Regions from separate parts of the Homo sapiens genome. Here regions 1 and 3 are each linked to region 2. The links come from fine-mapping of genetic effects on gene expression. A gene starts in region 2. Each other region holds a variant in brackets. All regions are shown on one strand. Distances are from middle to middle. Region 1 overlaps RALGAPA1 (Ral GTPase activating protein catalytic subunit alpha 1). Region 2 holds the start of RALGAPA1 (Ral GTPase activating protein catalytic subunit alpha 1). Region 3 overlaps RALGAPA1 (Ral GTPase activating protein catalytic subunit alpha 1).

The links. PIP is the estimated chance that this variant, and not a neighbour inherited with it, causes the effect.
Region 1: its variant is the best candidate, but not a certain one, in a credible set for the expression of RALGAPA1 in stomach (GTEx, PIP 0.72).
Region 3: its variant is the best candidate, but not a certain one, in a credible set for the expression of RALGAPA1 in gastroesophageal junction (GTEx, PIP 0.83).

Annotation. Positions count from the first base shown.
Region 1 is chr14:35,636,865-35,640,968 of GRCh38, reverse strand. The region is part of intron 31 of RALGAPA1 (Ral GTPase activating protein catalytic subunit alpha 1); the gene reads left to right. Among named protein-coding and RNA genes, the nearest start is that of INSM2, 100 kb to the right of the region's middle. The variant CTT/T (reference allele first, on the strand shown) is at 1,970.
Region 2 is chr14:35,807,114-35,811,217 of GRCh38, reverse strand. It overlaps RALGAPA1 (Ral GTPase activating protein catalytic subunit alpha 1), which reads left to right and starts at 1,923. Exons shown (of 42, transcript NM_001346249.2): 1 at 1,923-2,488. The coding sequence starts at 2,383. RefSeq lists enhancers at 1,777-1,876, 1,713-2,273 and a silencer at 1,957-2,196.
Region 3 is chr14:35,642,459-35,646,562 of GRCh38, reverse strand. All of the region lies in intron 31 of RALGAPA1 (Ral GTPase activating protein catalytic subunit alpha 1), which reads left to right. Among named protein-coding and RNA genes, the nearest start is that of INSM2, 110 kb to the right of the region's middle. The variant C/T (reference allele first, on the strand shown) is at 1,742.

The DNA of each region.
Region 1 (4,104 bases), 170 kb after region 2:
TTATTTTGTTGACAAAAATGTATCACATTGATTGATTTGTGTATGTTGAATCATCCTTGAATCCCTGGGATAAATCTCCCTTGGTCATGGTGAGTGATATTTCTAATGCATTGTTGAATTTGGTTTGCTAGTATTTTGTCGAGGATTTTTGCATCAATGTTCATCAGGAATATTGGCCTGTAGTTTTCTTTTTGTTGATGTCTTTTATTTTGATATTAGGGTAATATTGGCCTCATAGAATGAGTTTGGAAATACTTCCTCCTCTGTTTTTCAGAATAGTTTCAGAAGGATTGGTATTAGTTCTTTAAATGTTTGGTAGAATTTAGCAATGAAGCCATTGGGTCCTGGGCCTTTCTTTGGTGACAGACTTTTTATTACAGCTTTATTCTTGTTATATGTTACTGGTCTGTTCAGGTTTTGCATTTCTTCATGATTAAATCTTAATAGATTTTATGTGTCTAGGAGTTTATCCGTTTCTTCTAGGTTTTCCAGTTTATTGGCATATAGTTGTTCATAGTAGCCGCTCTGTTGATCTTTTAATTTCTGCTGTATCGGTTTTTAATGTCTCCTCTTTCATTTCTGATTTTATTTGAGTCTTGTTTCTTTTTTTCTTAGTGGCCAAAGGTTTGTCAATTTTATCTTTTTTAAAAAATCAATTTTTTGTTTCATGTGCCAATTTTTCATTTCATTGATCTTTTGTATTTTTGCCATTTCAGTTTTATTCATTTCTGCTCTGATCTTTATTATTTTTATTCTGCTTACTTTGGGTTTGGTTTGCTCTTGCTTTTCTGGTTCTTTAAGATGCATTGTTAGGTTGTTTACTTGACGTTTTTCTGCTTTTTTGATGTAGGTGCTTATAGCTATAAACTTCCCTCTTAGTACTGCTTTCACTGTATCCTATAGGTTTGGGTATGTTGTGTTTCCATTATCATTTGTTTCCAGAAACTTTCAGTTTTTTTCTTAATCTCTTCATTGACCCACAGATCATTCAGGAAGATATTGTTTAATTTCTTTTTTTTTTTTTTCTTTTGAGACAGAGTCTCAGCCTCTCGCCCAGGCTGAACTGCAGTGGTGCAATCTTGACTCACTGCAAGCTCTGCCTCCCAGGTTCACACCATTCTCCTGCCTCAGCCTCCCGAGTAGCTGGGACTACAGGTGCCCGCCACCACGCCCGACTAATTTTTTGTATTTTTAGTAGAGACGGGGTTTCACCGTCTTAGCCAGGATGGTCTCAATCTCCTGACCTCATGATCCGCCCACCTCGGCCTCCGAAAGTGCTGGGATTACAGGCACGAGCCACCGCACCTGGCCAATATTGTTTAATTCCTAAGTGTTTGTATAGTTTCCAAAATTCCTCTTATTTTTTATTTCTAGTTTTATTCCATTGGGGTCAGAGAAGATACTTAATATTATTTCAATTTTTAAAAATATGTTAAGACTTATTTTTTGGCCTAACATATGGTCTGTCCTTTAGAATGTTACAGATGCTGAGGAGAAAAATGTGCATTCCACAGCCATTGGATGAAATGTTCTGTAAATATCCATTTGGTCCATACTGCACATTAAGTCCAATGTCTCTGTTGATTTTCTGTCTGGATGAAATGTCCAATGCTGAAAGTGTGGTGTTTAAGTCTTCAGCTATTATTGTATTGGCATATATCTCTCTCTTTAGCTCTAATAATATTTGCTTTATATATCAGGGTGCTCCAGTGTTGAGTGCATATATATTTATAATTGTTTTATCCTCTTGCTGAATTAATCCCTTTATCATCACATAATGACCTTTTTTGTCTTGAAATCTATTTTGTCTGATGCAAGTGTAACTACTTCTGCTTTTTTTGGTTTCCATTTGCATAGAACATCTTCATCCCTTTATTTTCACTATATGTGTGTCTTTATAGGCAAAGTGTGTTTCTTGTAGGCAACAGATCGTTGGGTTTTATTTTTTTAATCTGTTCAGCCACTCTCT[CTT/T]TTGATTGAGTTTAGTCTATTTACATTCAGTGGTTTTTATTTTTTATTCTTTTTTTTTCTTTCTTTCTTTTTGAGACAGAGTCTTGCTCTGTCACCCAGGCTGGAGTGCAGCGGCGCAATCTCAGCTCACTGCAACCTCTACCTCCTGGGTTCAAACGATTCACCTGCCTCAGCCTTCCAACTAGCTGGGACTACAAGCACACACCACCACACCCAGCTAATTTTTTGGTTTTTTAGTAGAGATAGGATTTCACCATGCAGGCCAGGCTGGTCTCAAACTCGTGACCTCAGGTGATCTGCTTACCTCAGCCTCCCAGAGTGTTGGGATTACAGGTGTGAGCCGCCGTGCCCAGCCTCAGTGGTATTATTGATAAGTAGGTACTTACTCCTTCCACTTTATTATTTATTTTCTTGTTGTTTTTCAGGCTTCTCATCCTTCTTTCCTTCCTTCCTGTTTTCCTTTTAGTGAAGGTGATTTTCTCTGGTATTATGGTTTTGTTTCTTGCTTTTTATTTTTTTTATATCCATTGTATGTGTTTATATTGGAGGTTACCATAAGGCTTGCAAGTAATATCTTATAACCCATTATTTTAAACTAATGCCAACTTGACACTGACTGCATAAACAACAAGCAAAAAGAAAATTAATAACAACTCTACATATTAACTTAATCCCCCTGCTTTTTAACTTTTTATTCTTTCTATTTATATCTTATTGTACTGTCCATGTCTTGAAAAGTTGTTGTTATTATTTTTTATTGGTTCATCTTTTCATCTTTCTACTTCAATATGAGTAGTTTACACACCACAATTACAGCGTTATAGTATTCTGTGGTTTTCTGTTTACTTACTATCACCAGTGAGTTTTGGACCTTCAGATAATTTCTTACTGCTCATTAACATTCTTTTCTTTCAGACTGAAGAAATCCCTTTAGCATTTCTTGTGGGACAGATTTGGTGTTGATGAAATCCCTCAGCTTTTGTTTGTCTGGGAAAGTCTGTATTTCTTCTCCATGTTCGAAGGATATTTTCACTGGATATATTATTTTAGAATAAGTTTTTTTTCCTTTAGCACTTTAAATATGTCATGCCATTCTCTCCTGGCCTGTAAGATTTCTACTGAGAAGTCTGCTTCCAAATGTATTGGAGCTCCATTGTATGTTATTTGTTTCTTTTATCTTGCTGCTTTTATAATCCTTTTATCCTTGACCTTTGAGAGTTTGATTATTAAATGTCTTAAGGTAGTCATATTTGGATAAAATCTGCTTAGTGTTCTATAACCTACTTGTACTTGAGTGTTCATATCTTTCTCTGGGTTTGGGAAGTTCTATGTTTTTATCCTTCTTAATAAACTTTATATCCCAATCTATCTCCTCTTTAAAGCCAATAACTCTAGATTTACCCTTTTGATGCTCTTTTCTAGTTCTTATAGGTGTGTTTTATTCTTTTTTCTTCTTTTTTCTTTTGTCGCCTCTGACTGTGTATTTTCAAATAGCTTGTCTTCAGCCTCACCAATTCTTTTTTCTGCATTATCCGTTCTGCCATTAAAAGAACTCTGATGCATTCTTCAGTACACTAGTTGCATTTTTCAGCTCCAGAATTTCTACTTGGTTCTTTTTAGTTATTTCAATCTCTTTGTTAAATTTATCTCATAGGATTCTGAATTTCTTCTCTGTGTTATCTTGAATTTCATTGAGCTTCTTCAAAACAGCTGTTTTGAATTCTCTGTCAGGTGACATCTCTGTCTCTCTGGGATTGGTCATTGGTGCCTTATTTAATTCATTTGGTGAGGTCATGTTTTCCTGGATGGTCTTGATGTTTGTTGATGTTCATTGGTGTGTGGGCATTGAAGAGTTAGGTATTTATCATAGTCTTCGCAGTCTGGGTTTGTTTGTCTTCTCCCCCTAAGCATTACCTTTCCTATGTGTACTTCTACATCCTTTCTTTTTACTCACTACTCTGATCTACCAGTATACTTTTTTAATATTCTCACACTTAAGGTGGACTTTTTCTTTCTGGCATGGTTTTAGATCAGTCTTAGATTCACAGCAAGTTCCCATCTTCTCTCTTTCACAGTTTTTCCCAAACTACCCTTGCTTTTCATGAAAACCTGCAGTGGGAGAATGGGAGAAAG
Region 2 (4,104 bases):
TATTCTCTAAAATTATGTCACTCATTTGCCAAACATTTACTGAGTACTTGCGCAAGAGAAAGGAAGGGACAGTGACATTCGTTCTTCTATTCGACACAGATTTATTGAGCCTATCTTGCAAAGAGCACTTTGCAAGAAGACTGGGATACAACTTTAGACAATCTATACAGTCTCTGTCCTCAGGGAGTTTACAGTCTCATGAAAGAGAGAATCTGTAAACAGTTACACAAATTACTGTATTTAAATTCTATGAAGGAAAGGAATGTTATGAGATGTGTCATTATAGATGTAACTTTCAATACTTTTCTCACCTAATTATCACAATCACTGATGTAGTTTACAAATGAGGAAAATCAGGCTGAGACTGAACTACATGCCAAGGGCCCGAGAGCAAGTAAGTCCTTGCAAGTGAAAAACAGAATGTCTAATTTAGGTCTATGTAATTCTAAAGATCATGCTTGAAAACATTGTATTATTGCCTAAATTTCACGAAACTGTGAGGGACAGACCTTATTTTGATTTTATTAATAAGAAAACTGATGCTGAGAGGAACTAGAACTAAAATCTCTTGAACAATCCCCTTATTTTTCTATTATGTTATAAGCTTCCTCAAAACATGTATGGCTTGTAAGTTTGATGATACAAACAAACCCTACATGTAGAAACTGAATAAATTTTTTGTACTTTAAAAAATATAGGATTGTTGTTGAAACAAACTACCATTAAGCAAAGCACTATATTTTAACATAATTTTGGCAAATGTCTTACATCTCTCTTCTTTGCTGATTTTGTTATTTTTCTATGTTAATCACATATTTCATTGGACAAGTCTATTGCTATGGGTGAGAACATAGAAGGAAACAGTTCAAACAAGCAAACTCACTCTTTATCAAATTATTTTGTGGAGGAAATGTTCCTGGCCAGGCGCAGTGGCCTCACGCCTGTAATCCCAGCAGTTTGGTAGGCTGAGGCGGGCGGATCACTTGAGTCTAGGAGTTTTAGACCAGTTTGGGCAAAATGGCGAAACCCCGTCTCTACAAAAAACACAAAAATTAGCTGGATGTGGTGGCGCGCACCTGTGGTCCCAGCTACTCGGTAGGCTGAGGTGGGAGCATCACCTGAGCCTGGGAGTTCGAGGCTTCAGTGAGCTGAGATCACACCACTGCACTTCTGCCTGGGACACAGAGACCCTGTCTGGAAAGAAAAGGAAAAAGGAAAAAAAAAAAAAGGGTTCCAATAAAAATTTCAATTTATGTCATTCAGAATTTCACGGATTTTTTTCAGCTATTGCAGATTCTTCAGATGACTCCATCAATGTAATAAGAACCTTGAATTCTTCTTTGCAGAGGAAAAACTGACAATATATTCATCTTTATGTGGGGTGCAGATGGGGAAAAGATTTTTAAAAGCACAATAGAAAAGGAAAGCAAGATTACTTTTATTTAAAAAACCTAGATACCTCTGCTTAAGCCTTTCTGTTGTCAAGTTGTTTGCAGCAAAAAACAGGGATATTGCAAATAGAAAAAATATGAAAGAAATCACATACATAGTGCAGGAAATATTATTAGTAATAGATTTAGGACAGAATAAATTGCCCAACTGTAACTTCGTTTATCTTTCTGCTAGAGGATCTGGTGGCCACAACAACTTATGCACATTTTCAAAGATAAATCATGGACATATTTAATAAAGATTACTTCTCTTTGCTTATTACTATCATTTGGCTTACAATGGAGCACGCAGTAACTACCTTCCTTGCCTTTCTTGAGATTCTCCTTTGGCTGCTTACACAGGAAACCAAGGCGGGGAGTGCCACGGGTGATCTCATGCTGGCATGACGTCAAGAACTCTTGACGTCAGAAGGCGGTTGCCACGGACACCGTTCGCCACCGACGGCAGAGTCGTGAAACCCCATCACTACCACACTCGTCTCCGTTTCGGCCTCTGCAGGGTGTAAGCTGCTAAAGAAGCTTCAACCTTAAGGGGGCCTCAGGGAGAGAGTTGTGCTCCTGCCGCCGAGAGCTCCACCTTCGTGGCTCTGGGTCCGGGGCCCCGGCCTGTGGCGGCGAGCGGCGGCCGCTGGAGACGAGCGGCGGCGGCAGGCGGCCAGCCCGGGTCTGCCTCGCTCCGTGCAGGGCCGGGAGAGGGATCCGCCATATTGGAGCTGGGGCCGAAGGTGCCTTGGAGCCGCGGCGCGAGGCGGGTGGAGGTGGCGGCCCTGGCCTGGATCGGGAAGGAGTCGGCTCTGCCCTGGCCCGCAAGGCTGGGGAGCTAATGAGCCTCTCTGGCTAGTCTCCTCCCCGTCCACTCCCTCCACTTTCTGCCGCCGGGACCCGGCTGGGAGCCGGCTGTGGCAGTGGCAGTGGCAGTGGCAGCGACAGGATGTTCTCCAAGAAGCCGCACGGGGACGTGAAGAAGTCCACCCAGAAGGTGCTAGACACCAAGAAGGACGCACTGACTCGCCTCAAGCACCTGCGCATCGTCATCGGTGAGGAGCGAGGGGTGGCAGCGCCGAGGCCTGGGTTGCCCGGCCTTCCCTCTCCTGGGAGCCCCTGCGGACTCTCTCTCGGGACCTGGCGCGGTGCAGGAGAGGGCAAATCGTAGCCTCTGCGGAGACGCGGGAGGGTGAATAATTCGGAGAAGCGAAAACTTGGCAGTTGGCAGCACTGATTACTGTTAACACAGTAATCTAATTTTGAGTTAATAGTCTGAACTTATTTTTTAAAATTGGTATTACTCTAAAAACTTAGATCTTTAAGACTTTGTGGGGAGACCTGGCGTTGTGGATAATGGTGTTTATAGGATATGTTTGCCAGATGACTACTGCCAACCCCACCCAAGTAAAAAGAAAAATAAAATCCTCTCTCAGACAATATAAACCTTAATCTTTCAAGTTTCTTGGCAGATGAAGACAAGGAGGTAGCAGTTACACCTCTTTGGGAAGTGGGCGGTTCCCAAAAAGCTGTGGGAAGGAGCCCCGCCCTTTTGTTAATGCACCTTGTTCATCACTAGTCATTTAGAGGGAGAACTATTATAGGTAGTTTAACTCATCCTTTGCTTCTCGAGAATTGTATATAATTCTATTTTTAATTAAAAATATTTTTTTTATCGTCTGCCCTTAAGTTCTGTTTTGCTGGTAGACCAAACAGTGCTCTAAGTTTTGAATATAATGTTAATCGACTCTTTTGAATACTTAGTCATTTGGTAGGCTGATAAAGGCTGTAATAATACTTATGGAACATCTGGTCCAGTAGTTGGATTTTTTAGATGAAGACATTTGAGATGAAAAGGAAAATTATTTCGCCTGTGTTGATACTTAGAGTTAATGGTGGAACTGGCTGAAGAAGATGCATTCATCCAGATGCCTGAATCCTAGTTCAGAGTTTATCTCGAGCTGTCCTCCTGATGCGTATTTGTTTTGGAAAGTGATGTTTATTTAGTGAAAAAAGTAAGTCCCTTATTTGAGGTACATGTTTCTCTAGTCTATTGTTTACTCATACCACCAGGATACCACCAATATTACCCAACATTTCTATGATGCTTTACTGTTTACAGTGATTTCACGTAAATTATGATAATCCTTGCAATAACTCTATAGGTAGATGATATTATTCTCCATTTTTTACCAACAAAAAAGCTGAAGTTTGGGAACATCGAGTAGTCAGCCAGCTACCAGGAGGCTGAGTCAGAATTGGAACCCAGATTTTGTGTCTCTAGTTTGTTTTTTTACTCTTTCTACATTTATGACAGCTAATCTTTGTCACAAGTAAATTGTATTTATTCCAGTGGAGTAGTAAGAAAGCAGTTAATCCAGTTTAGCGCTATAAAAAGCTCAGTTTTCAAGAAAATGTAAAGCTTCTAAATATAGTGGAGATTGTGATCTTTTTGTTTTCATTCTTCTTGAGAGTTAAGCCATTGAAATAAAGATTTAGCCGAGAATAGGACACAGTAAGTTAATGTGTGAATGCAGGCGAGGGATTCACAGGTAATGGCAGTTTGAAATTGAACACTTAATGGAGCTTGACACCTACTTGGGATAAGCTGTAGGTTAGGTAATGACACAGCTATAAAGTTGAGTTCCAATAAAGTATCGAGATTTCCTAA
Region 3 (4,104 bases), 160 kb after region 2:
GACATTTTAAAGAATACAGTCTAGTTACTGTATAAAATGTCCTGCGTTTTGGCTTTGTGTTTCATCATGATTAGGTTTGTTATTATTGGATTTAAATTAGGCGTATTTGGCAGGAATACCTCAGAAGATTTTGTGCACCTCTTAATACATTATATCAGGTGTCACAGATGTCAGTTTGTTTCATTACTGATTGGTGCTAACTTCAGTCAAATGATTAAGGTTGTGTCTGCCAGGTGTTCCCACTGTAAAGCTACTGTTTAATCCTTTTCAATGAATTAGTATTTGTAAGACAATACTTTGAGACTATACTATATAAATATTTGACTCCTTAAATTTCCACTAACTGGTTTTGCTAATCATTAATGACTCTTACCAGAAACAATTATTGTTACAGTAGCTGCCAAATGATGATTTCCTAATTCATCATTTTTTCTACATTCATTAGTTAGCTTTCTACGTATAAGGAAGAGCTTTCCTTTCTTTCTTATTCATCTTATTTCAATGTGGGCTCATGATTCTGATTTTATGCAATGATTTGTAATCCTTAACTATTATTTATTTTGGTGCTCAAAATGTCTCATACTTAGCCAGTGGGAGCCCCTTCAAAGTGGCTTCTTTTTCATAAATCCCCATTATTTTGGGGGCATGCTTTTAATTTCTGTCAGCACACAATTTTCCAGACTCACTTTGTGCTTTCCCTGTCCCAGCCCTGAAATTACCCATTTCTCCAAGAAACCCTGCTTCCGTTAAGTGGCAAATGGTGTTTAGAAATCAGTATCTAAGAACTAGGCATGCACATTGCTACTGGGATATCTTTTTTTTTTTTTTTTTTGGAGATGGAGTCTCGCTCTGTCGCCCAGGCTGGAGTGCCCCGGCGCGATCTCGGCTCACTGCAAGCTCCGCCTCCCGGGTTCACGCCATTCTCCTGCCCAGCCTCCCGAGTAGCTGGGACTACAGGCGCCCGCCACCACGCCTGGCTAATTTTTTTGTATTTTTAGTAGAGACGGGGTTTCACCGTGTTAGCCAGGATGGTCTCGATCTCCTGACCTCGTGATCTGCCTGTCTCAGCCTCCCAAAGTGGTGGGATTACAGGCGTGAGCCATTGCGCCCGGCCTGGGGTATCGTTTCTTAAGTCCTCTTTGGCAGATACAGCTAGGAAATACATAACATATACACACACACACACACACACACACACACACACACACACACACACCCATCTCTATATCTGCTATAGACTGAATGTTTGTGTCTCTCCCGAAGTTCATATATGGAAATCCTAATGCCCAGTGTCATGGGATTTGGAGGTGGGGCCTTTGAGAGGTAATTAGGTCGTGAGGATGAAGCCCTCATCAATGGGATTAGTGCCCTTATAAGAAGAGAGATGAACTAATATCCACCGTGTGAAGATACACTAGAAGGTGGTCATCTAACAAGCCAGAAAGAGGACCCTCACATATACTGAATTGGCTGCCACCTTGATCTTCAACTTTCTAGCTTTCAGAACTGTGAGGAATAAATTTCTCTTGTTTAAGCCACCCAGTGTAAAGTATTTGTAATGCCAGCACAGACAGAATAAGATGGTATCTAATTATAAGTATTAAAAACCTTGAGTTCACACTGACACCTCCAATTCTTATTTTATTTTATTTTACTTTAAGTTCCAGGATACATGTGCAGAATGTGCAGGTTTGTTACATGGGTAGACAAGTGCCATGGTGTTTTGCTGCACCTGTCAACC[C/T]GTCACCACATGCATTAGCTGTTTGTCCTGATGCTCTCCCTCACCTTCCCCCACCAACAGGCCCCAGTCTGACACCTCCACGTCTAATCCAACACCACGAGATTCAGTCCATCCTTCCCCGTTTTCCTTATTTGTAACTCCCTGCTCCAGCAATGAAAAATCTGGTTTCCATATTGATTATTTATCTGGATATGTTTACTTCTTTGTGCTGTTCTATTTTTTTAAATTATTAACTTATGCCTCTTTATAGTTAAGAGTGCTTGTCTTTACCAAGAGAGATTATTGTTTGAAAAATGTGTTCATAAGTTATTTGGGTTACTTCGTAGTCCCCCTTTCCCACTTCAGTATGGTTATATAATTACCTTGAAATTCAGTTCAGGTCACTTTTTTCTGTTTGTATGCAGTTTTAGGGTCTTTGTCCCATCTCTGTTGTTTTAATTTTTTTAGTCTATGGTTCATCCATCCTATGATTGTTTTTTCACAAATGAACAGATGCATGTATATCGTCTTTTATTCCTTGTTTGTTACACATAGCCTAGATAGTCTTTGCTTTGGATTTTTCACTTGACAGTGTATCTTGGAAATCCTTAATACGTAAGTTCATAGAGATCTTCCCCATCTTTTTATTTATTGAAAATTGTTCTGGGTACATAGTAGGTGTATATATTTATGGAGTGCATGGGATATTTTGACAGAGACATACAGTGCATAATATGTCAGGATAAATGGGGTATCCTTCCCCTCAAGCACTTATCCTTTCTGTGTGTTACAAAATAATCCAATTATATGTTTTTAGTTATTTTTAAATGTACAATTCAGTTATTTTTTACTATAGTCACTCTGTTTTGCTAGCAAATATTATATTTTATTCATTCTTTCTATTTTTTAGAACCCATTAACCATCCCCACTTACCCCATACTCCCCACTGCCCTTCCCAGTCTCTGGTAACCATCATTCTATTCTCTGTCTCCATGAGTTCAGTTGTTTTCATATTTATCTCCCACAGATAAGTGAGAGCATGCAATGTTTGTCTTTCTGTGCCTGGCTTATTTCACTTAACATAATGACTTCCAGTTCCATCTATCTTGTTGCAAATGACAAGATCTCATTCTTCTTTATGGCTGAATAGTACTCCCTTGCATATATGTACCACTTTTCTTTATCCATTCATCTGTTGATGGACACTTAGGTTGGTCCCAAATTTTGGCTATTGTAAATAATACTGCAGTAAACATGGGAATGTAGGTATCTCTTAGATATGCTGATTTCCTTTCATTTGGGTATATACCTAGCAGTAGGATTACTGGATCATATAGTAGTTATCTTTGTTAGTTTTTTGAGGAACCTCGAAACTGTTCTCCATAGTGGTTGTACTAACATAAATTCCCACCAACAGTGTATGAGGGTTCCCTTTTCTCCACATCCTCGCCAGCATTTATTGCCTGTCTTTTGGATAAACCCATTTTATTTTATTTATTTTATTATTATTATTATACTTTAAGTTCTAGGGTACATGTGCACAATGTGCAGGTTTGTTACATATGTATACATGTGCCATGTTAGTGTGCTGCACCCATTAACTCGTCATTTACATTAGGTATATTTCCTAATGCTATCCCTCCCGCCTCCCCCCACCCCTCGAAAGGCCCTGGTGTGTGATGTTTCCCATCCTGTGTCTAAGTGTTCTCATTGTTCAATTCCCACCTATGAATGAGAACTTGCGGTGTTTGGTTTTCTGTCCTTGCGACAGTTTGCTCAGAATGATGGTTTCCAGCTTTATCCATGTCCCTACAAAGGACATGAACTCATCCTTTTTATGGCTGCATAGTATTCCATGGTGTATATTTGCCACATTTTCTTAATCTAGTCTATCATTGATGGACACTTGAGTTGGTTCCAAGTCTTTGCTATCGTGAATAGTGCCACAGTAAACATACACGTGCATATGTCCTTATAGCAGCATGACTTATAATCCTTTGGGTATATACCCAGTAATTAGATGGCTGGGTCAAATGGTATTTCTAGTTCTAGATCCTTGAGGAATTGCCACACTGTCTTCCACAATGGTTGAACTAGTTTACACTCCAACCATGTAAAAGTGTTCCTGTTTCTCCACATCCTCTCCAGCACCTGTTGTTTCCTGACTTTTTAATGATCACCATTCTAACTGGTGTGAGATGGTATCTCATTGTGGGATAAAACCCGTTTTAACTGAGGTGAGATGATATCTCATTGTATTTAGTAGTTTTGATTTGCATTTCTCTGATGATGTTGAGCATCTTTTCATAAGTTCATATGTGTTCATATGAACTTGTTTTCATATAGTCATATGAACATATTAACTTGTTTTCCTTTTTTATGT